Linked DNA regions of Homo sapiens. The protein of the gene in region 2 interacts with the protein of the main gene of each other region in a pairwise test. Each region holds a gene or a part of one and is shown on either strand. Other genes may lie near its edges. The genes, in order: CABP5, ZNF229 and TPM2.

Region 1 (7,107 bases), 3.6 Mb from region 2:
AATGCTTCCAAAACCTGCCACCCGCTTCCATTCTCAAACTTGGAGAGGAGTGAGAAGGAGTGGCCAACTTGGAAAATCTGACAGTGAGTTGGAAGTGGATTCCTGCGGTGGCTGCCCCCGCTCCCCACCACGCCCCGTCAATGTCACCTTCAAAGTCAACTGTGCCGTCTCCATTAACATCAGCCTCCCGGACAACCTCAGAGATCTCCCGGGGGGTGAGCCGCTCCCCCAGGAGTCTCTGCATGGCCTGCTGTAGCTCCACCAGGGTGATCTCCCCATCTCCATTCGTGTCAAACTGAATAGAAGCAGAAATAGATTATATCAGCAATGACAATGATGATAGCCACGAGATGATGGAGTTTACCTATCGCTTACTGTGGGTCAAGCACTGAGATAAAAGCTTTGGGAATGTGAGCCACTAGAACGTCAGCTCCAAAAGACAGTTTTGTTCTGTTTTTTTTTTTCTTTTTTTCTTTCTTTTTTTTTTTTTTTTTATTTGAGACAGTCTCACCCTGTCACCCAGGCTGAAGTGCAGTGGTGCAATCTCAGCTCACTGCAGCCTTCACCTCCTGGATTCAAGCGATTCTCGTCCCTCAGCCTCCCGAGTAGCTGGGATTACAGGCGCGCACCACCAAACCTGTTTAATATTTGTATTTTTAGTAGAGACAGGGTTTCACCATGTTGGCCAGGCTGATCTTGAACTCCTGACCTCAGTTGATCCACCTGCCTCAGCCTCCTAAAGTGCTGAGATTACAGGCTTGAGCCACTGTGCCCGGCCGAAACTTTTTTTTAATGAGACGGGGTCTCACTATTTTGGCCAGGTTGGTCTTAAAATCTTGGCCTTAAGCAACCCTTCCACCTTGTCCTTCCAAAGTGCTAGGCTTACAGTCCTGAGCCAAAGTGCCCAGCGATACATTTAAAACTTACTTTTTAGGTGATTTTTGAAACATACATTATTATTTACTATAGTTATCCTGCTGTGCAATAGATCTCAAAAGTTATTCCTCCTGTCTAACCAAAACTTTGTACCCTTTGACAAGCAACTGTCCATTCCTTCTCTGTGGCTCCCCAGCCTCTGCTAACCACCTTTCTTTTTATTTGCATGAGTTCAATTTTTTAAGATTCTGCATGTAACATCATGTGGTATTTGTCCTTTTGTGCCTGGCTTATATAGCTTAGAATAATGTGCTTCATGTTTATTCATGTTGTTGTAAATGATAGAGTTTCCTTCTTTTTAAAAGCTGAATATGCCGGACTCAGTGGCTCATGCCTGTAATCCCAGCACTTTGGGAGGCCAAGGCGGGTGGATCACCTGAGGTCAGGAGTTCGAGACCAGCCTGACCAACATGGAGAAACTCCGTCTTTACTAAAAATACAAAATTAGCCAGGCGTGGTGGCGCATGCCTGTAGTCCCGGCTACTCGAGAGGCTGAGGCAGGAGAATCGCTTGAACCTGGGAGGTGGAGGTTGTGGTGAGCCAAGATTGTGCCATTCTACTCCAGCCTGGGCAACAAGAGCAAAACTGTCTCAAAAAAAGAGAAAGAAAATTTTAAATGACCCATGCTGCTTACATTGTATTTATTTTGGATGACACAGCTGTAGGCTGAGGAAGCTGCAAGTTAACAAGTGCCGTAAGGCAGGAAGGTGTACTTGAGGAAGAGGCAGAAGTGGGGAGTGTTTAGGGAGGCGTGAGCTGGGGAGAAATGAGCATGAAATAGACAAGGTCTCAGTGTTGCAGAAGGCAGGGCCCAAGTACGTAGGGGCTTGTGTGTCATGGGACGTTGTCAGGATTTGGTTCTGAGTAAGACAAGAAGCCACTGGAGAATTTTAAGCAGGGGAGTGACCAGATCTGATATACATTTTAAAAGAATGTGAGCATGAAACCCTGTTGTGTAGAGAACAGACCACAGTAGGACCACGATGGGAGCCAGGAAACCAATTAGAGGGCCGCCATGATCATCCTGGTAGGAGATGGTTGTGGTTTGAGCCAGTTAGCACCAGCAGAGCTCAAGAAGGAGAGTTCACTCCCCGATGTTTTGGAAATTGAACGTACTAGACTTTCTGGTAGACTAGTTAAGGGTGTGCAGGGCAGAGCTTTGGAGGCAGTTCATTAATTCAACACATATGTATCCATATTGCTAAAAAAAAATGTGTCAGTAGTGCCCATGTGGAAGGCACCGTTCTTGGGACTGAGCACGGAGCAGCAAGCAAGACACTTAGAAATACTTGTCTTCTGTACCTGGCTTATTTCACCCAGCATACTGTCCTCCAGGTTCATTTGTGTTGTTGTGTGGGGCAGGATTTCCTTCTTTTGTAAGGCTGAATATTGCATTTAAATATATACCACGCAGAAGGAGAAATACTGCATGATTCCACTTACATATGAAGTACTTAAAATAACCACACTCATAGAAGCAGAGAGTAGAAGGATAGTTGCTGGGGGTTAGGAGGACAGGGAAATGGGGAGATATTGTACCATGGGTATAAAGTTTCAGTTACGCAAGATAGGTTCTAGAGATCTGCTGTGTGGCATTGTGCCTATAATTAATAATACTGCATAATGACAAATATTGCTTTTAATGGCAAAATCACAATTACTTTTGCATCAATCTAATAACTATGGGCAAAAGACGTGAACAGCCATCTCTCTAAAGAGGACAAATGGGCAAAAGACGTGAACAGCCATCTCTCTAAAGAAGACAAATGGGCAAAAGACGTGAACAGCTATCTCTCTAAAGAAGACAGACAAATGGCAAACAAGTTCGTGAAAAAAATGCTCAGCATCACTAATCATTTGGGAAATTTAAATTAAAACCACAATGAAATATCACCTCACATCTGTTAGGATGGCTACTGTTAAAAAGATGAATAATAACAAGTGTTGGTGAGGATGTGGATAAAAGGGAACCCTGGTACACTTTTGCTGGGTATGGAAATTAGCACAGCTATTATGGAAAATGGTATGGAGGTTCCTTAGAAAATTAAACCTAGAGCTGCCATATGACCCAGCAATACCACTTCTGGGTATGTATCTAAAGTAATTGAAATCAGTATATCAAAGGGATGTTTGCACTCCCCTGCTCATGGCAGCACTATTCACAATAGCCAAGGTATGGAAGCAACCTGTGTCCATCAAAACAGAAGAGTGGATAAAGAAAACATGGCATAAGTACACAATGGAATACTATTCAGCTTTTTTTTTTTTTTTTTTTTTTTTTTGAGGTGGAGTTTCGCTCTTTTTACCCAGGCTGGAGTGCAGTGGTGCGATCTTGGCTCACTGCAACCTCTGCCTCCCGGGTTCAAGCGATTCTTCTGCCTCAGCCTCCTGAGTACTTGGGATTACACGCATGTACCACCACGCCTAGCTAATTTTGTATTTTTAGTAGAGACGGGGTTTCTCCATGTTGGTCAGGCTGGTCTCAAACTCCCGACCTCAGGTGATCCACCCACCTCAGCCTCCCAAAGTGCTGGGATTACAGGCATGAGCCACTGCACCTGGCCTTAAAATTTTCTAGTAGTGACGTTTAAAAAAATGTTAAAAGGAACAAATGAAACTAATTTTTAATATTCTCTTTTATTTGACACAATATATCTAAAGTGTTATCCTTTCATCATGTAATCCACTTAAAAATTATTAATTTAGCTATGTAAGTAGCATTCTTTTTATACACACTGGATTTCATAAGGCAGTAAGTTCTAAGTTCTTAGTAGGTGCTTAGCATGCTTAATTAGGATACTTAGCCTAGAAGTTTACTTAAGTATACAAGTACGTTATGCTAATTATATTAGCATACTAAGTCTTAATACAGTGTTCACGTTACACTTACAGCACTTCTCAATCCAGACAACTTTTTCTTTTTGTTTTGAGATGGAGTTTCACTCTTATAACCCAGGCTGGAATGCAATGGTGCGATCTCAGCTCACTGCAACCTCTGCCTCCCAGGTTCAAGCAATTCCCTGCCTCAGCCTCCCAAGTAGCTGGGATTACAGGCGCCCACCACCATGTCTGGCTAAATTTTTTTGCATTTTTAGTAGAGACGGGGTTTCAGCATCTTGGCCAGGCTGGTCTTAAAGTCCTGACCTTGTGATCCACCTGCATCGGCCTCCCAAAGTGCTGGGATTATGGGTGTGAGCCACTGAGCCCGGCCAGCTGTAGATCTTTATAAGAAGCTGGGGGAGGCACTTGCACAGCCAATAGGTGGAGGCCTCCTAGGATTTGAACCCATGTTTGCCTGGTTCCAAATCCTTTGCTCCCAAACACTCTACTACTCTTTATTTTCACCTTGTGTTGCTGAAAGCTCTCAGAACGAGAAGGTATTTTATCAGGGGATATAAGCAAGTCTGTTATTCTCACTGGGTCTGATATTTTTTAGTATGTCTGCAGCAAGTGGTTCGTACCAGATGACCACTTTGCATTCCCTTCTGGGATCTCAAATTCTTGGATTCTTCCTGTTACAGGCACTAAGAATAGAGGCCCTGGCCAGGCACGGTGGCTCATGCCTGTAATCCCAGCACTTTGGGAGACCGAGGCAGGTGGATCACTTGAGGTCAGGAGTTCGAGACCAGCCTGGTCAACATGGTGAAACCCCGTCTCTACGAAAAATACAAAAATTAGCTGGGTGTGGTATCGCGCACCTGTAATCCCAGTTACTTAGGAGGCTGAGACAGGAGACTGGCTTGAACCCGGGAGGCAGAGGTTGTAGTGAGCCGAGATTGCACCATTGCACTCCAGCCTGGGGACAACAGTGAAACCCCGTCTCAAAAAAAAAAAGTCCTAACATTTATTCTAGAGATGGCAGGATCTTGGATAAGATTTATAATCTTCATGAGCCTCACTTTTCTCATCTGTTTAATTGGGATACATGACTGCTTGCTTACTCCTAATGTGTTTGTGTGCGTGTTTTTGTTTTTGTTTGTTTGTTTTTTTGAGGATTAAATCAGATAAAGTATACAGAGGCATTGATCCATTGCAGGTGTTTGGAATACGTTATTTTTCTTCCCTATTTATTGATCCCACCATGGCTGGAAAAAAAAAGGTGGGGGCCTGGTTGGTGGGTGCTGTCCATGGCATTGGCTAATTACAGGCAGACCTCAGAGGGTCTGCCTCTACCATCACCAGCACCATGACACTGTTAACTCACCTCCTTGAAGGCATCCCGCATCTCCTGGACACCGATCATCCCAGCTGTTTCTGCAAGCAATTTGGGGGTCATCAGCTCCACAAAGTCATCAAAGTCTACACGGCCACCCACTGAGGAAGATGGCACAGGATTAGCGAGACCCCACAAGCCCTGGCCTTCCATTACCTCACTTTGTGCTTCGAGTCAGTTAGATCAGCTCCCTTCTCCCTGCCCTATAAGAGCCGTCTTTGACTTCCTCCCTCCAGCAGCTAACTCCAAGCTCCAAACTCATGTCCCTCTAGCCTGAACAGGAGTGGATAGGGTGTGGTATGGTGGAAGTAACTGCCTGTGTGACTTTCAGACAGTTGGTTAAGATGTTTCTCCTCCTCTGTAGACCTGTACAAAGAGGAGCATGAATTAAATGAGCATACAATTTTTTTTTCAGATATGAATACTATCATTACCTTGAATTCAACCTTGTTTAGTTCGTTACATGCCCAGAAGCAAACCCAATAGCTTTTTTTTTTTTTTTTTTTTTTTTTTTTGAGACAGAGTCCCACTCTGTTGCCAAGGCTGGAGTGCAATGGTGCGATCTCGGCTCACTGCAACCTCTGCCTCCCGGGTTCAAGCGATTCTCGTACCTTAGCCTCCCGAGTAGCTGGGATTACAGGTGCACGCCATCACGCCTGGCTAATTTTTTGTATTTTTAGTAGAGACGGGGTGTCACCATGTTGCCCATGCTGTTCACAAACCCCTAACCTCAGGTGATCTGCCCACCTCAGCCTCCCAGAGTGCTGGAATTACAGGTTACAGGTGTGAGACACTGCGCCCAGCCTCAATAGGAATTTTATTCTAGCTAAAATCTAAAAATCAGTTATGATCTCCATCCAAAAATCCATCCATCCTTTTTGCAGCTGTATTCACCAACATTAGCTCCAGCTCCAAGTTTGTTTCCAACATCCAATACAGCTCCAATCTCGTGCTCCACTGATGAATCTTAGTGGTGATAGTAATAACTACCTTTAATAAGAATTTACTGGAGGCTAAGACTTTAACTGCATCAGCATCTTTATCTCTTCCTTCTCTTCCTTTCCACAGTCCCATGAGGTAAGGAGAGAGGCATCTTCCTCTATAGATGAGGAAATGGAAACTGAAGAGTAGCGGATAACTTCACTTTTCAAAATGACTGTAATTAGTAAATAATAGAACTGAGATTTGAACCCAGACCTATCTCTAAAAGCTTTTAACCACTTCAAATGCTGCCTTCCTGAGTCGAATCTGACCTGTTTTCTTCCAGACTTCTAGTCCCTCTCATCCTCCTCTCCACCCCCAACTCTACTCTTAACCTCTACATCCTTCCCAATTCTGCCCTGATCCCTTCCCTAACCCCGGCCATCCCTCCCATTCCCTGGACTCACGGTTCATGCGGATTTGCTGGCCGAGCTCAATCAGTTCCATCTCCGTGGGCATGTAACCCATCGTCCTCATGAGATTCCCCAGATCCTTACAAGAGATGAACCCATCTCGGTCCTTATCGAACTCAAGAAATGCTTCCCGCAGCTCTGAAAGTTAAGAGAGAACTTTGGGGGAACTTGAAGCAGTCAGTGGGGAAGAGTGGCATCTCTTGAAGCTATCAATGAGGCTCCAACTAGAGACTCCTTAAAGGAGCGTACATTAGAAACAAAACAAAACAAAACAAAAAAACCAAGGCCGGATGTGGTGGCTCATGGCTGTAATCCCAGCACTTTGGGAGGTCGAGGTGGGTGGATCACCTGAGGTGAGGAGTTTGAGGCCAGACTGACCAACATGGCAGAACCCCATCTCTACTAAATACAAAAAAATTAGCTGGGCATGGTGGCTCATGCCTTTGATCCCAGCTACTAGGGAGGCTGCCTCAGCCAAGGCAGAAGAATCGCTTGAACCTGGGAGGCGGAGGTAGCAGTGAGAGGAGATCGTGCCATTGCACTCCAGCCTGGCAACAAGAGCAA
Region 2 (7,107 bases):
GCAAAAATTGCTATGATTTCTTCTCAAATATTGTGGCAATAATATATTAACAGTTTACAACGAAGTGTGTGACGCTGTGAAATAGATATTTGGTCTCTGTGGCATATAACTCCAAAAGCCCTTAGAAACTCCACCGTGATGTCTTTTTCTATGCTAATGGGTTGACTAGTAGCTGGCAGCTGGCAGGTAGCTTCAGGATGGGGCTGCTTACTGGAAAGAACAAGGAAGGATTAGAGGATTAGACTTATAGTACTTCCCCCTCCCCCAACCTCCAGTGAGGGGAGAGGAGCTGAGGGTGAAGTTGATCACTGGTGCCTACCTAATGAAACTTTCATAAAAACCTAAGAGGACCAGGTTCAGAGAAATTCTGGGAAGGTGACATGCCCAGAGAGGGCATGGAAGCTCCATGCCCCTTACCCCATACCTTTGCCCCATGCATCTCTTCATCTGTATCCTTTTGTGATATCCTTTATAATAAACCAGTAAACATAAGTGTTTCCCTGAGTTCTGTGAGCTGCTCTAGCAAATTAATCAAACCCAAAGAGTGGGTTGTGGGAACCCCAACTTGCAGCTGGTTGGTCACAAGTTCTGGAAGCCTAAACTTGCAACTGGTGGGAGGGAGGAGCAGTCTCTTGTGGGACAGAACCCTCAACCTGTGGGATCTGACACTACCTCCGGGCAGACAGTGTCAGAATTGAACCGAAGGGCACCCAGCAAAACTGCCACAAAACTGATTGCTTACTTGAGGAGAAACCCACACACATTTGGTCACAGAAGTCTTCTGCCTGTGATTATTGTTGCTGAGTGTCAGAATACAAACAGCACTTAGAGTTTCAGTAGCTTTTTCCACACTAAGTATACCCCTTTGGGCCAGCAATATTCAGACATTTACATCATAGAATTTAAAGATTAAAGAACAGGATGCAAAAATCACATGTGTTTGTACTGTTTGTAGTGCTAAAACTGGTAGTAATCAGAACTGAATATCTTATGGTAGTAAAATACACACTACATGGAAAGCATACATGTTTCCATTTCCTTTTTTTTGAGATGGAGTCTCACTCTGTCGCCCAGGCTGGAGTGCAGTGGCATGATCTCAGCTCACTGCAACCTCCGCCTCCCAGGTTCAAGCGATTCTTCTGCCTTAGCCTCCCGAGTACCTGAGATTACAGGTGTGCGCCACCATGCCCGGCTAATTTTTTTACTTTTGGTAGAGACAGGGTTTCACCATGTTGGCCAGGGTGGTCTTGAACTTCTGGCCTCAGGTGATCTGCCCGCCTTGGCCTCCCAAAGTGCTGGGATTAGAGGTGTGAGCCACCATGCCCAGCCCCATTTCCTTTTTAAAAAGAAGGTAACATATATTTTCACATGACAAAGATATTGATGGATTCACACCTCTTTGTTAATGTTGGGCATATTAGCGAGGACAGTTGGGGGAACCTAATTTATTTCATTATAGACCTTGGTATGGTCTGTCTTCTACTAAATCTTTATTTTAAAAGTTATAATGAAATATATATAAACTAGTATTATTAACATGGCTGAGCTACAGAGGTTTAATACTATGAGTGAGTATGGCAGACAACCCAAAAACATCTCCATGGGAGTCCCACAGAGTCTCACAGTTGTAAACTGCACAGACCATCTTAACACACAGGACTCAAAAAGCTACACCCACTCAATTTTTGTGTAGGGGGGAGCTTGCTAGAAAAAGAATTAATCAGAAATTTTTTAAGTGTAAAAAAAATCGCAGCTAGGATTGGAAGAAAAAAACAACTTAGAGCTTAGCCTAAACAGATGAATGAACATCCAAGAAGAAAGAACTGTAAAACAGGACAGGATTCTGGAACACAGTGGAAAATGGCAAAAAGAAAGAAGAAAGAAAAGAAAAAGAAAAGGAAGAAGGAAGGAGAGAAAGAGAAAGAGAAAATAAAGTGAAAGAATAGGAAGGACAGATCCAGAAGTTACACCATTTATCCAGTAGGCATTCCAGGAAGACCAACTGGATTAAATAATAGTAATAATTGACATCAGGCACAAACAGAATTAATGCCCGAGAGAACAGAGCAAGGAAAATAAAGTGTGATCCATGAAAATGCCACACACCCAAGCATAAACACAACAGATGCTTCTAGAAAAAAATGACAAGAATGAATTTAGCTCACCAGAAGGTGAATGGAGAAGCCACAATACAAAGTCCTACACAAGACTTAATACAAGAAGAAAATGACACAACCTGTACTGAGTCCAGAAAGTGTGAATGAAGAATTTTAAGCCCTGGCAACTTGCAATTTGAACATAAAACCAACATTCTTTTTTTTTTTTTTGAGACAGGGTCTCGCTTTTTCACCCAGGCTGGAGTAGAGTGGCATGATCTTGGTTCACTGCAGCCTTGATTTCCCTGGGCTCAAGCAATCCTCCCACTTCAACCCCCAAGTAGCTGGGACTATAGGAATGCACCACCACACCCAGCTAATTTTTTAGTATTTTTGTAGAGACAAGATTTTACCATGTTGCCCAGGCTGGTCTCGAACTCCTGAGCTCAAGTGATCCGCATGCCTCAGCTTCCCAAAGTGCTAAGATTACGAGCCACTGCACCTGGCCCACAACATTCTTAAACTTGGAAAAATGCAGAGGATACTATAGCCAAGTCTTTGGCGTGGGGGAACAAAAAGACTGCATCCAAAGTCTTTGTAGATGAAATTGAGGCAACCAACAAATAAATTCAAGTAAGAAAGTTGTGGTAAAAGGAGAGGCGGTGAGCAATGACTTAAATACACAGAAGTGAGTCTCAACTGGGGGAACTTATGGTGACGAATCAGAAGATAACAATGACAATAACAATATAATAACAATCAGAAGATGGTAGGAAGTAAAAACGTGCTAATTGCTTCAACTTTCACAGCAGGAAGTAATCAATAATATTTAAAATTAAGGTACACAGTAAAAGAAGTGAATCAAATCTTCAAAATTATTTCACAATCTCTTTTCATAAAAAGAAAGGTTTAGAAAATAATGTTTCATGTGTTGAAAAAACATACTTAAAATTCTGCAATGGCTATGATTTTTTTCAGTTTAAAAGAAAATTAAGAAATATGTATATACTAAAGGATAGCCTATTTCCATATCCCTATATTTTCATTTACTTTATATCGCTTGATAGCAGCTTAGAATCTAGACAAAAGAACGAATGAAACTACAATTCACTAATTCAATAGATGAACATGGAATCCATATCACTATATGTGTGTGTACATATATATGTATATATATTTGTAGATATGTGTACATATATGTGTATATACACATTTGGCTGTTATGAATGATGCTGCAATTATCATTCTTTGCACATTTATTCTGACTTAGAAAAAATTCTTAGAGTGGGAAATGCTCGACCAGAATAAGGAGAACTTCTAGAAAGGCAGAAATACTCCTGCAGCTGTGTGGATGTACCCATTTCTCCATATCCCAGCTAACAGTGCATGTTGACCTTTCAAATCTTTGGCTGTCTGCTAGAATAATCATAAATCTTATTTCAATGTGTATCATTTTGATTAATAGAGGCTTATAGTCTTTTCATATGATTAGTGGGCATTAGTTTTTCTCTGCTCCCTTCCTGAACAAGAATGCTCAGGTCTTTATGCATAACCCTCTTCTGAAAATAAGGATATTAAAATTTTGTCATAGATGAAACTTTTCTAATATGTTTTTCTTTTTTTAACTTTGTGCATGGTATACTTTTGGTAGGGTCTACTACATGGAGAACATTACATCTATAAATGAATAACGTTCCACAGAGGAGAACAACCCAGGCAGCGATGATTCAGTATTTGGAGAGTCATCTCTCTGCTAATCTAGGCTTGGGCCTCTGCGTGAAGCTATTGCGGTGGCAGGAAGGCATAGCGGAAAGGTAGATTATCGAATCCAATTGACCTACCTGAGTTCAAATCCTGGATCCCCCATTCATTTCTTCATCTCTAAAACAGAATCATACTATCTGTCTCACATCACTATTTTGTGGATAAATGCAACGAGAAATGTATTCACCCAATACATTTTTCGCTCTTTTTCCTTTTACCGAGAAGGGACGTATGTTTTCTCTCTGATGCCTAAGGTGGTATTTCGGGAGAGAAAAGAAAACAACCCACCTGAGACATGATCTTCTCCTCCCTATCTTGGGAAATGGCTGAGGCTTGAGAATGAAGAGCTGTAGGAGGAGAAAGAGGCCATGAGGAGGAGTTGGTGCTGCCTGAAGCTCTAGATCATCTACCTGGTAGGAAGGTGCCCAGCTTTACAGACTGGTTTCTTCTCACTTGAGGAAATTCCTCAACATCCAACTTTTTCTCCTCCACACTCAGTTTGGATTCTCCCCCCACCCACCCCCTCTATTAGCTGTCACCTCTTTTCTCATGCCTTGAGGTCAAAGTCTCCATGGTCTCTTCTGCTAGGTTCTCTGCGAGCAGCAGCAACTGTATTTATTCTCTGGTTTTCCTAAGCTGGAGACGCAGAAGATCCAGGCCTTTTTCATTCCGGAAACTCTCCAAGCTCTGACAAGTTCCTGTCTCCACCTTTACTGTCCAGAGCGCGACTGCTTCCCATGGTCAGGGGACCTGTAGGTTCGGGAGGGAACTTTACTTAGTCCTTTCTTCTGGGCCCCAAGGCTGTGGTTCACATCCCCTGGATACTATTCATTCAGTAGTTTACAGGACATTTACTGAGTACTTGTTAGGTTTAGTCCCCTACTCTGAAGGGGCTCATAGTCCACAAAGCCAAGAGTGTTGCAGATGGGTAAGGACAGTCACAGAAGAGTCTGTGAGGAGGGTCCTGCAGCTAAATTCTCAGTAAGGCACAGGGCCCCTCAGAAGGGCAGAGAGACCCCACAAATATATGGGACCTGTGACCTGTGAAGAAACACCTGGAGAGGAAAAGCTTTATTAACGCAATACTGTTTGACTTGCAAAAAATAAAATACAATAAATCCCCATACTTAGGGATTATAGAAATCAGGATATAGATTAGAGCCATCTTTAGTCAGCGTTTTTAACTTTTTTTGTGCCATGGCCCCCCTTCACTAATCTGATGATACCTAAAGATCCCTACTGAGAATAAAGTTTTAAATGCATAAAATGAAATGCAAAGAATTATATGGAAATACAACCTTCAAAACTATTAAAACTCTGCATGGCTCACTGTGCAAGTATAGTGCCACTTTATTAATACATTCAATATAAACAATAAATTTAACTACAATTTCAAAAGAGTAATGAGCATAAACAATACTCTGAAATATTTGCACAAACCAGAATATGACATAAAAATATCTATGATGTATATGGATGACAAAGTCACAAGTACTGCTAATAATATTGTGGCTTAGCACCTATGTTCACAATGAAATGCTACTTGTGACTTAGACTAGTATAATTTTTTTCCCATTCAAATTCATGGAACTCCTGAGTTATGCTCATGGAGCCCAGGGCAAGAATTCCTTTTCAAAATTAAGCCTCTTCTGCCCCGCCCCACCCCCCAGACTGAATTAATTACTCTGGGATCCAGCAACACATGGTATAAATTGCTGGTTACCACCTTTCACACGGCCTCCATGGTCAGATCTCTAAGTCATCAAAATAATTGAGTCTTCTTTTTCTTTATTTACCTTTCATGGCTCTGGCACACGGGAAGCACTTAAGGGTCCTAAGCAATTCTATCAGCAGGAGGTGATGCACACAGATTGAACAAAACTCTTACAATCTGCTCAGAGCTACTCGGGAGGTAGTGCAAAGACAGTGGACATGAGTTTCCACCCTTCCCCACCTTGCCTGGCCTCTTTCCTCTTGAAATTCAAGTCTCAAGGTCAAGTTCAGACAAACAGATACACATACTTGGGCTGTCTACTCTAGGACACTCACTGGATTTTACTGCTTCAGGAACTCAAATCTCCTTCTTTCCTCTAACCATCTGTACCAGCCCTCTGCATGGCCCACAGTGACAAGCATCTTTCTCTCTCCCTCCCTTCATGCACTGCCCTGAACTGGGGATTGCCCTTTGACCCAGGTGTGGACAACCAGGCAACACGCTACCCTCCTACACAAAGGACAAAGGGAAGAGTAGAGGCCAGATCTGAAACAAGGCCTCCACCGCAATGCCACTTAAACTCAAACTTCAGGATCCTCTAGGACTGCGCTTTGCAAACTTCAGTATGTTTAAAAATCACCATGAGCAATGATGAAAACAGACTGCTAGAGTCCAGCTCCAAAGATTCTAATTCTGTATCTCTGCAGTAGAGCCCAGGAGTCTGTGTTTTAAACGTTTCCAGGGGATGCTGACAAAGTGAGTCCAGGGGCCACACCTGAAGCAAACTTGCTAAGTTACCCTCACTTCCTCTGACTGGCTGATTTTCAGGGTTTCCAGAGACTTCCGGTGGGTAAAAATTTTCCTTGTGCTTCCTCCTCCTATCCCTGAACTCTTCAGGTCAGGAAGCCTCAAGAGTCAGCACATAAAGTTCTCTATCTTCTTTCACTCCCTTGGTGAACATATCCAGCCTCAGGCCTTCAACACAATCTACACACTGATGACTCCATGGCAACCTGCCATCTCCACTCTTATGTCTAAAAAGCAACTCAAAAAACATGTTCAAAAGAAAAGTCCAGATTTGCCCCTAGAGGTACTTCTCTCCTTTGAAATGAAGAGGAAATATTCTAGTCATCCTTGATTTCTTCCTCGTACTCTACATCCAATCCATCAGCAAATACCTACAAATCAGAACCAGAATCAGATTATTCTTGCTGCCACCGTCCACACCATCATGTCTCACCTGCATTAACGTGACAGCCCCCTAAATGGCCTCTGCATTCCTACTCCTGTTCGTTTCAGTCTACTTCCTACACAGCAGCTGGAGTGATCTTTTAAAAATATAAACTCATATTCTTCTCTGGCCAAAACCATCATTTTACTCAAAACCTTGCACCAAGGTCCTTTCAATGGCCCAAAGACCTTACACTATCTTCCTTCCCAATATTCAGTTTCCCACTTATCCTCCCTCTTTCTCATTCTGCTCAGCTCTGGCTTCCTTGCTGTTCTTCACATGCCCTCATCACCGGGCCTTCG
Region 3 (7,588 bases), on a different chromosome or scaffold from region 2:
TACTCAGCCCCTGGGCTTGCAGTAGGAGGCAAAACCATGGAGGTTTTGGAAAAAATCCATAAAAACTGGTCAAACACTGAGAAAAAGGGCAGAGCAAGGCGAGCGCCAGTAAAGGAAAATGAGAGGAGCAGGGCAGCCACGTGTTAAGAGCATCGGCTCTGAGTCAGATTGTCTTTGAGCCACGGCTCAGCCACTCAACACCTGTGTAACTGTGGGCAACTTATTTAGCCTCTCTAAGCTTCAGTTTCCTCCTTCACAAGTTGGAGTTAACAATAACAGTTCCTCCTTCTTAAGGCTGTTCTGAGATAATCCACTGCTTTTAATACTCAGTTAATCAACAGGACCTTCGGTGAGACTCATAAAACTAAACAGGTTCTCTTACTCCATGCTAGATCCACTGAATTGGGATGTGTAGGGCGGGGGCTTGGGAATCTTCTCTTTTTTTTTTAAAGCCCCCGAGTGATTCTGATGATAAGCCAAGTTTGGGAAATTGTAAAATAACATGCAGAAAGCACTGAGTACATTGCCTGCACAGGGTCCACATTCCATAAATATTAGGTTATCCCCTTTCTCTGTCAAAAACAAGGACACAGAGACCCTGAGATTTCAGAGTGGAAAGGAGAGAGGACCTGTGTAGGGAAAGGAGGTGGGGGGAGGGGCTGGGGGCAGCACTTGGACACAGCATAGGAAGCAGGTCCTTGGTCGGACTGTAGGGCAGGAGAAACAGCACCATATATAGAGAGTAGATGGTAGCTTGTCTTCCAGGTGCTGAAGGCACCTGGAGCTTGGCCACCTAGAGTGACAAGAGCCCATCATGGGCACAGGGCCGGATGACAGTGTGGAAGCATTCTGGGGACAGCATTGGGGGTTGGGAAGAATCACTGTGGGGGACATTGGAGTACTACCCTAGAGAGAGGTGAGACTGTAAAAGAAAAACTCTGCATGATGGTGGGGTGACAAAAGACTCTGGAAAGTTTGGGAAGTCCTGGGGTCCTCATCATGGGACTGATATGTGCCATTTCCTGCCTCTCAAGCTCTTCCCAGTTACGGGGGCGGCTCTCTAACCACAGGACAGGCACTACTGTCCCCATTAGAAAAATGGGAAGCAAGAGAGAGGGAGAAACTGAGGCACCATGTAAGTTGAGTGCTGTGTTCAAGGTCACCAGGAAGCTTGGGCAGTCTTTCCTATCTGCTCCTGGTGCTGCGGCTCTGCCTCCCCAGCTCTGTCCCTGTCCCCCCTGCCCCTCCAGCCCCCACCAGCAACTTGGGTTTCCAATCTTGCCTCCAGCTGCACTGGGCCTTGGTTATTTATAGAGTGTCAGATGCCCAGGGTTGTCTGTGCTAGCAGCTGCAGGTCAGCTCCCTCCCAAGTGCCAGGACTGGTGGAGAACCAAAACTGGAGGCTGGAGGTCACAGAAGCCCAACCCCTGGGGGGCTGGGAACATGAGCAGTCGACACAAACAGCTATGTCATCTCTGATGTTCAGACCATGCTTTATGCTAATCTAACCATAGGTTCATCTTAAAACAATCCTGGGTGGAAGGAAGATGGGGAAACTGAGGCAGAGAATGGGGAAACTACCACCACACCAAAGCCATATGGCCATTCTCCTACCTTAAGCTGGGGGTTGGGAATGGCAGGAAGTGAAGTCTGGTTGGGGTTGTGGGGTGGGCAGAGAAATCTCAGGGTAAATGACCTGCCAAGGTAGCTGCTTTGGCATTTGTGGCCCTGTCCCTCTGCCCTGTGGCCTGGCATGGTCTCCAGGCTGACAGCTTAATGAGGGTAAATGAGGAGCCATTAGAACCTGAGCTGGGGCCCCAGGGCACAGCAGGGCTGCTGAAGCCAGAGGTCAAGGCCAGGGAATTTCTAATGGCCCCTTAGGGTTGTAACTCAAGTGGGGTCTCATCTCTGGATCCCTCTCCCTCCTCCTGCAGGCTAGTACCTCACATCCACATCCCCCCATCCCCAAACGGCTGCAGTCTCCTCTCCAATTTCAGCTGGAGGATTAATTGAGGTAGATGGTAAATTCTTATACCTTCCACCCCCACAATGACTCATTGCTTGATCACTGTACATTCTAAAAGCTGGAACCAAACAGAATTACAGGGCTAAGTCCTCTGGGGGAAGTGGTAGGTGGTTTTGATTTATCCACTGTCTTGGATTACTTGTGTAAGTTTACCCTAGCCCTGGTTACTGAGATGAAACCATTTCTCTCCTGGCGCTGGGGACATAAGGGGATAAGGTGCCCCAATCCTCTTATTCCCATACCCGGGGGGCCCCTTCCCAGAGCCCTAACTCCTCCCATTGTCCCCCAAGTCCACACTCACATCAGTGGCCTTCTTCTCGGCCTGCTCCAGTTTCTCCTGGGCCTCCTTCACGGATTCAGAATACTTTTCCACCTCATCCTCTGTCCCCTTCAGCTTCTTCTGGAGGGCCTGCTGCTCCTCCTCCAGCTGGGACAGAGGGGACTTGGTCAGCCAGGCTGGGAGGGGGCCCAGGCCCAGAATGGAGACGCGGTGTGTGTAGGGGCGCTACTAAGATTTGGAGGCTACTGGGATGGAAGCGGAATAACATAAAAGGGACAGTACAGTCAAGGGTACTGGTGGGACCCGTTGAGGGTACAGAGAAAACTTCAGGCCCCAAGGAGCAGGACCAACCGCGCTCTGCAAAGGCAGAGTGGAAACCAGGGGCCTGGGGCTTCCCCAGGCTATTGTAGGGGAGAGAAGCGGCTCTGGCGAAGGCCCTGAGGGTACTGCGAAGGCCCAGCCCCCACCCTGGGTGAGAGAGAGCCTTGGCGGGCAGGCCCGGGGCTGGGGGACCCATGGCAGCGGCCCACCCTTGCCCTAGGCGCGGGGAGAGCAGGCTGCACTGGGCCCGGCCCTAACCTGCTTGCAGCGGTCCTCAGCTTGCTTCTTGTCGGCTTCGGCCTGCTCGGCGCGGTCGATGGCGTTCTCCTTGTCCAGCTTCAGCATCTGCATCTTCTTCTTGATGGCGTCCATGGCTGCGGTGGGGGGTGGGCCGGCCGGCAGGCGGTGAGGACCGGACGGACTGGGCTGGGTGAGCGGACTGGGTGCACCGGTGGCAGGCGAGGAGGACGGAGCGGGACTGGGACGTCCCGGCCACGCGGGCGCCTAAAAGGCGGGGAGGGACCGGGCGGGGCCGGCAACCAGGACCCTCCCCCACCTCGGCCCAAACCTTGTAGGGGCAGAAGCACGGCCCGGCCGGGGGGTGCGGCCGCCCCCTTCGCCCACCCACTGGGGACCGCCTCCCTTGGGGTCCCGCCCCCATCCCCCTCTTCCCTGCCAGCCGTCGGAGGAAAAAGTGGCCGACGGTCGGCTGGAAAAACCCCGGCGATGCGAAGGGGAGGGGACCCTTGGGCTGGGGGCTCCGTGCTTCCTCTGAGTGACAGCCGGACCCAGTGGCAGCTGCGGCTGGGGCCCCTGGGGCTATTTCGGGGCGTGAGCTCACGGCAGCTGCCCGGGCGCAGGGACCGGCGTGCCCCCCCTCAGCTGCAGCAGCCGCTACCCTTAATTTAGAAGTTTCCTGCAAATCCCCCCGGATTAAATGTCTCTCGGGAGGCGGAGCTCCTCGGCAGTTTGAGTGCCTCAGTTTACCCTGAGTCCCTCTAGGTTTGCGTTATCGACGTGGTGGTAGTAGCGGAGTCTCATCGGGAGCTTGGGGAAACTGAAGCAGGAAGCGAGCCCAGAGCCCCGGTCGCGGTGGGGAGTGTGGCCGGGCTTGCTGCCCCCAGGACCGGCCTGACCTCTCATCCCCTCGCCTCCCCTCCCAGCCCCTGCCCCTGGAGCCAGGCCCTTCCTGCGAGCACCCGGCGGCTCAGGACCCAGCTCCCCGCCCCGCCCCCCACGTGCCCCGCATATTTTCCACGCGGCTGCGGCCAGGCTGGTCACCGCGCGTTCCCCGCCCCCGCTCCCACCCGGACGCGTCCCGAGCCCCTCCGCTCCCCGCCCCTGGCTCCGCCTGGCCCCACTCCCCTCCGCGCGCCTTCCCTCTTCTCCCCCGCTCCCCGCGGACGCTCCTCTCTTTCCCAGTGGGCCAACTTTATGCTGAAATTTCTTTTCTGCCCTTTTTTGGGATGTTTCCCCATTGGGAGGCGGAGCCGGGCTGCGGCGGGGAAGGCGGAGGGCGAGGGGAAGAGTCACTGAGCTGCGGGGCATAGGGGGTCCGGGGCGAGGTGCCTTCTCCCACCCAGGCCGCCAAACCAGCGCCGGAGCCGGGTCGTGGGGTCTGGGAGTCGGAGGCGCGAGGCGCGAGGGTGTTTGTTTTCGTTTTTCCCTGGGGTGGGGTGGGGGGAAAGGAAGTGGAGAGCCGCCGGGAGGAGGGGGAAGGGGAGGAGAGAACAAGCGGAGGAAGCCGGGAGGGAGCTGCTAGCCTCGCCCCCACCCTCCAGTCATAGAGGGGCGGGAGGCCTGGATTTTGCAGTGGGCTGGGGACCGTGGGAACCCGAGGCCGCTGGCCGGGGCGGTGGGGAGGTGGCGTGGAAATGCATTCAGATCTGTTTAGCTGCCTGCTAGCCACACGGAGAGCAACCCTGGCCTGACCTCGCAGTGTTCCTCTAACTCCGTGGAAGACGCCTCATCCACCAGTAGCCTATGCTAGACCACTGGGTATCCCCTGCCCTTCGCGTCTCACAACCACCTAATCCTGGAGAGGCTGCCTTCTACCAAGGAGGTTCCTCCTCGGGTCGGTCTGGGCTGGCCTCTGGCCGCGCCTTATGTTTTCTTCAGTCTGTTTTGTAGTCTTACTTCTAGTTCCTCAACTCATTCATTCATTTGACTGTCCCATGACATTGTTGTCAAATATCTTTTTAAAAGTTAATGCGAATATTATCTAAAATTCTCCAAAACCCCTCCCTAATCCCTGTCCCCCCACCTTTTTTGAGACGGGAGCTTGCTAGATTGCCCAGGCTGGTCTTGAACTTATGGGCTTAAGTGATCCTCCCGACTCAGCCTCCTGAGTAGCTGGGATTACAGGCGTGCGGGCACCCTGCCTGTTTTGAGGAGAAAAAAAAAATCCACATTTCTTAATATGGTATAGAAGGCCCGTTGTTTTGGCTGTTGCCTGCCTCTCTGGCCTCATCTCCTTCCATGCCCAACCTCACCCCCAGTATTCATACTTGTACCTCATGCTGCATTCATAATGAGCTACGTGCAGGAGCTGGAAATAGCCATACTTTTCTTAAAGCTTCCACAGTTTATGCATTCTGTTCTCTCTCCCTAAAATGCCCATCCCCTTGGCTGATTCCTGGTGGCCTTTAAGACTCAGTAAGTGTCAGCTTTTCTGGGAAGCCTTCCCTGGCCACTTCTCTTCCCACCGCCTCACCTAATAGGTGCGTGTTCTTGGTGCGGGCTCTCACCCTCATCCTAGTCCCATGGTATAACTGTTCTTATACCGGTTTGGCGCCTCCGCCGGTCTGTGAGTCCTCAACAGAAACGACTGTTCTCAATTCTGAATCCCCAAGGCCTATCACAGCACCAGGCATAGAGTTGGCACTTCATGAACATTTGCCAGATGAGTTTTTTATGTACCAGTTTCTGGGTACTTATCAAATATACTAATACGGTGTGGGTCTTTTGGTCTTAGAACCCATTACACTCTTAAAAAGTATTGAAGACCCCCAAACAGCTTTTTTGTTGAAGTGGGTTATATCTACCAATAGTTGCCATATTAAAATGAAACTTGAGAAAAATTTTAAATATGTATCAATTCGTTAAAAATAACAAAAATAAACTCATTACACATTAATCATGTTAACATAATGTTCTAAATGAAAGATAACTATATTCCCATTCCCCGAATTAATGAGAGTATGGAAATTATTTTACATTTTTACGAATCTCTTTACTCTCTGGCTTCCAAGGGGACAGCTGTATTATCAATATCTCCTTCCATATTTGATCTGTTGCTATATGTTGGTTACTGAGACATATGAAGAAAATCCTGTCTCACAACAGATATGCAGTTGGAAAGATTTATTTATTATTTTATTTATTTATTTTGAAACAGTCTTGCTCTGTTGCCCAGGCTGGAGTGCGGTGGTGCGATCTTGGCTCACTGCAACCTCCGCTTCCCAGGTTCAAGCAATTCTCCTGTCTCAGCCTCCTGAGTAGCTGGGACTACAGGCATGCACCACCATGCCTGACTAATTTTTGTATTTTCAGTAGAGACAGGGTTTCACCATGTTGGCCAGGCTGGTCTCGAACTCCTGACCTCAAGTGATCCGCCTGCCTTGGCCTCCCAAAGTGCTGGGCTTACAGGCGTGAACCACCACGCCTGGCCTATTTATTATTATTATTATTTGTTTATTTTTTTGAGACAGAGTCTCGCGCTGTCACCCAGGCTGGAGTGCAGTGGGGCGATCTCAGCTAACTGCAACCTCCGCCTCCCAGGTTCAAGTGATTCTCCCGCCTCAGCCTCCCGAGTAGCTGGGACTACAGGCATAAGCCATCACACCCAGCTAACTGTTGTATTTTTTGTTTGTTTGTTTTGTTTTTTTGAGACGGAGTCTCGCTCTGTTGCCCAGGCTGGAGTGCAGTGGCACAATCTCGGCTCACTGCAACCTCCGCCTCCCAGGTTCACGCCATTCTCCTGCCTCAGCCTCCCAAGTAGCTGGAACTATAGGCGCCCGCCACCATGCCCAGATAACTTTTTATATTTTTAGTAGAGACGGGGTTTCACTGTGTTAGCTAGGCTGGTCTTGAACTCCTGAACTCAGATAATCTGCCTGCCTTGGCCTCCCAAAGTGCTGGGATTACAGGCGTGAGCCACCATGCCGGGCCTGGCATATTTATGTTTTTTTGAGACAAGGTCTGGCTCTGTCACCCAGGCTGTAGTGCAGAGACACAATCACGGCTTGGCTCACTGCAGCCTTGACCTTCTGGGCTCAAGTGCTCTCTCCGCCTCAGTCTCCTCCAGTAGCTGGGACTACACATGTGCACCATCATACCCGGCCCTTTTTTTTTTTTTTTTAAATAGAGATGGTGTGCCACTATGTTGCCTAGGTTGGTCTCAAACTCCTAGGCTCAAGCTACCCTCCTGCCTCAGCCTCCCAAAGTGCTGGAATTACAGGCCTGAGCCACTGTGCCTGGCCGATAATTGGCAGTTTCTTAAGGGGCAGTTGCAATGTAGAATGTGAAACCATATCAGTGACCTTTTTGTACTGTTAAACTAAAATCCGTTGTTTTGGCCAAGTGTGGTGGCTCACGCCTGTAATCCCAGCACTTTGTGACGCCAAGGTGGGTGGATCACCTGAGGTCAGGAGTTCGAGACCAGCCTGGCCAACATGGTGAAACCCTCCCGTCTCTACTAAAACTACAAAAATTAGTCAGGTGTGGTGGTGGCACACGCCTGTAATCCCAGCCACTCGGGAGGCTGAGGCAGGGGAATCACTTGAACCTGCGAGGCGAAGGTTGCAGTTAGCCGAGATTGCACCACTGCACTCCAGCTTGGGTGACAGAGCAAGACTCTGTCTCAAAAAAAAAAAAAAAATCCGTTTTTCTGAACTGCACCTGATTGGATCTTTTACCCATGCATAATTTTGTAACACCGTGCATTCGTCATATGGAAAATA

The links.
Region 1: the proteins of ZNF229 (region 2) and CABP5 interact in binary tests that used the Homo sapiens proteins (3 or more experiments, as listed by UniProt).
Region 3: the proteins of ZNF229 (region 2) and TPM2 interact in binary tests that used the Homo sapiens proteins (3 or more experiments, as listed by UniProt).

Annotation. Positions count from the first base shown.
Region 1 is NC_000019.10:48,034,068-48,041,174, forward strand, and holds part of CABP5 (calcium-binding protein 5), read right to left. Parts: intron 6,682-7,107; coding exon 6,538-6,681; intron 5,251-6,537; coding exon 5,141-5,250; intron 296-5,140; coding exon 148-295; intron 1-147. UniProt on the Homo sapiens protein: Inhibits calcium-dependent inactivation of L-type calcium channel and shifts voltage dependence of activation to more depolarized membrane potentials. Involved in the transmission of light signals.
Region 2 is NC_000019.10:44,438,415-44,445,521, forward strand, and holds part of ZNF229 (zinc finger protein 229), read right to left. Parts: intron 6,753-7,107; exon of another isoform or gene 4,611-6,752; 5' UTR 4,434-4,610; coding exon 4,400-4,433; intron 4,208-4,399; coding exon 4,149-4,207; intron 1-4,148. UniProt on the Homo sapiens protein: May be involved in transcriptional regulation.
Region 3 is NC_000009.12:35,686,819-35,694,406, forward strand, and holds the start of TPM2 (tropomyosin beta chain), read right to left. Parts: upstream 3,108-7,588; 5' UTR 3,000-3,107; coding exon 2,886-2,999; intron 2,454-2,885; coding exon 2,328-2,453; intron 1-2,327. UniProt on the Homo sapiens protein: Binds to actin filaments in muscle and non-muscle cells. Plays a central role, in association with the troponin complex, in the calcium dependent regulation of vertebrate striated muscle contraction.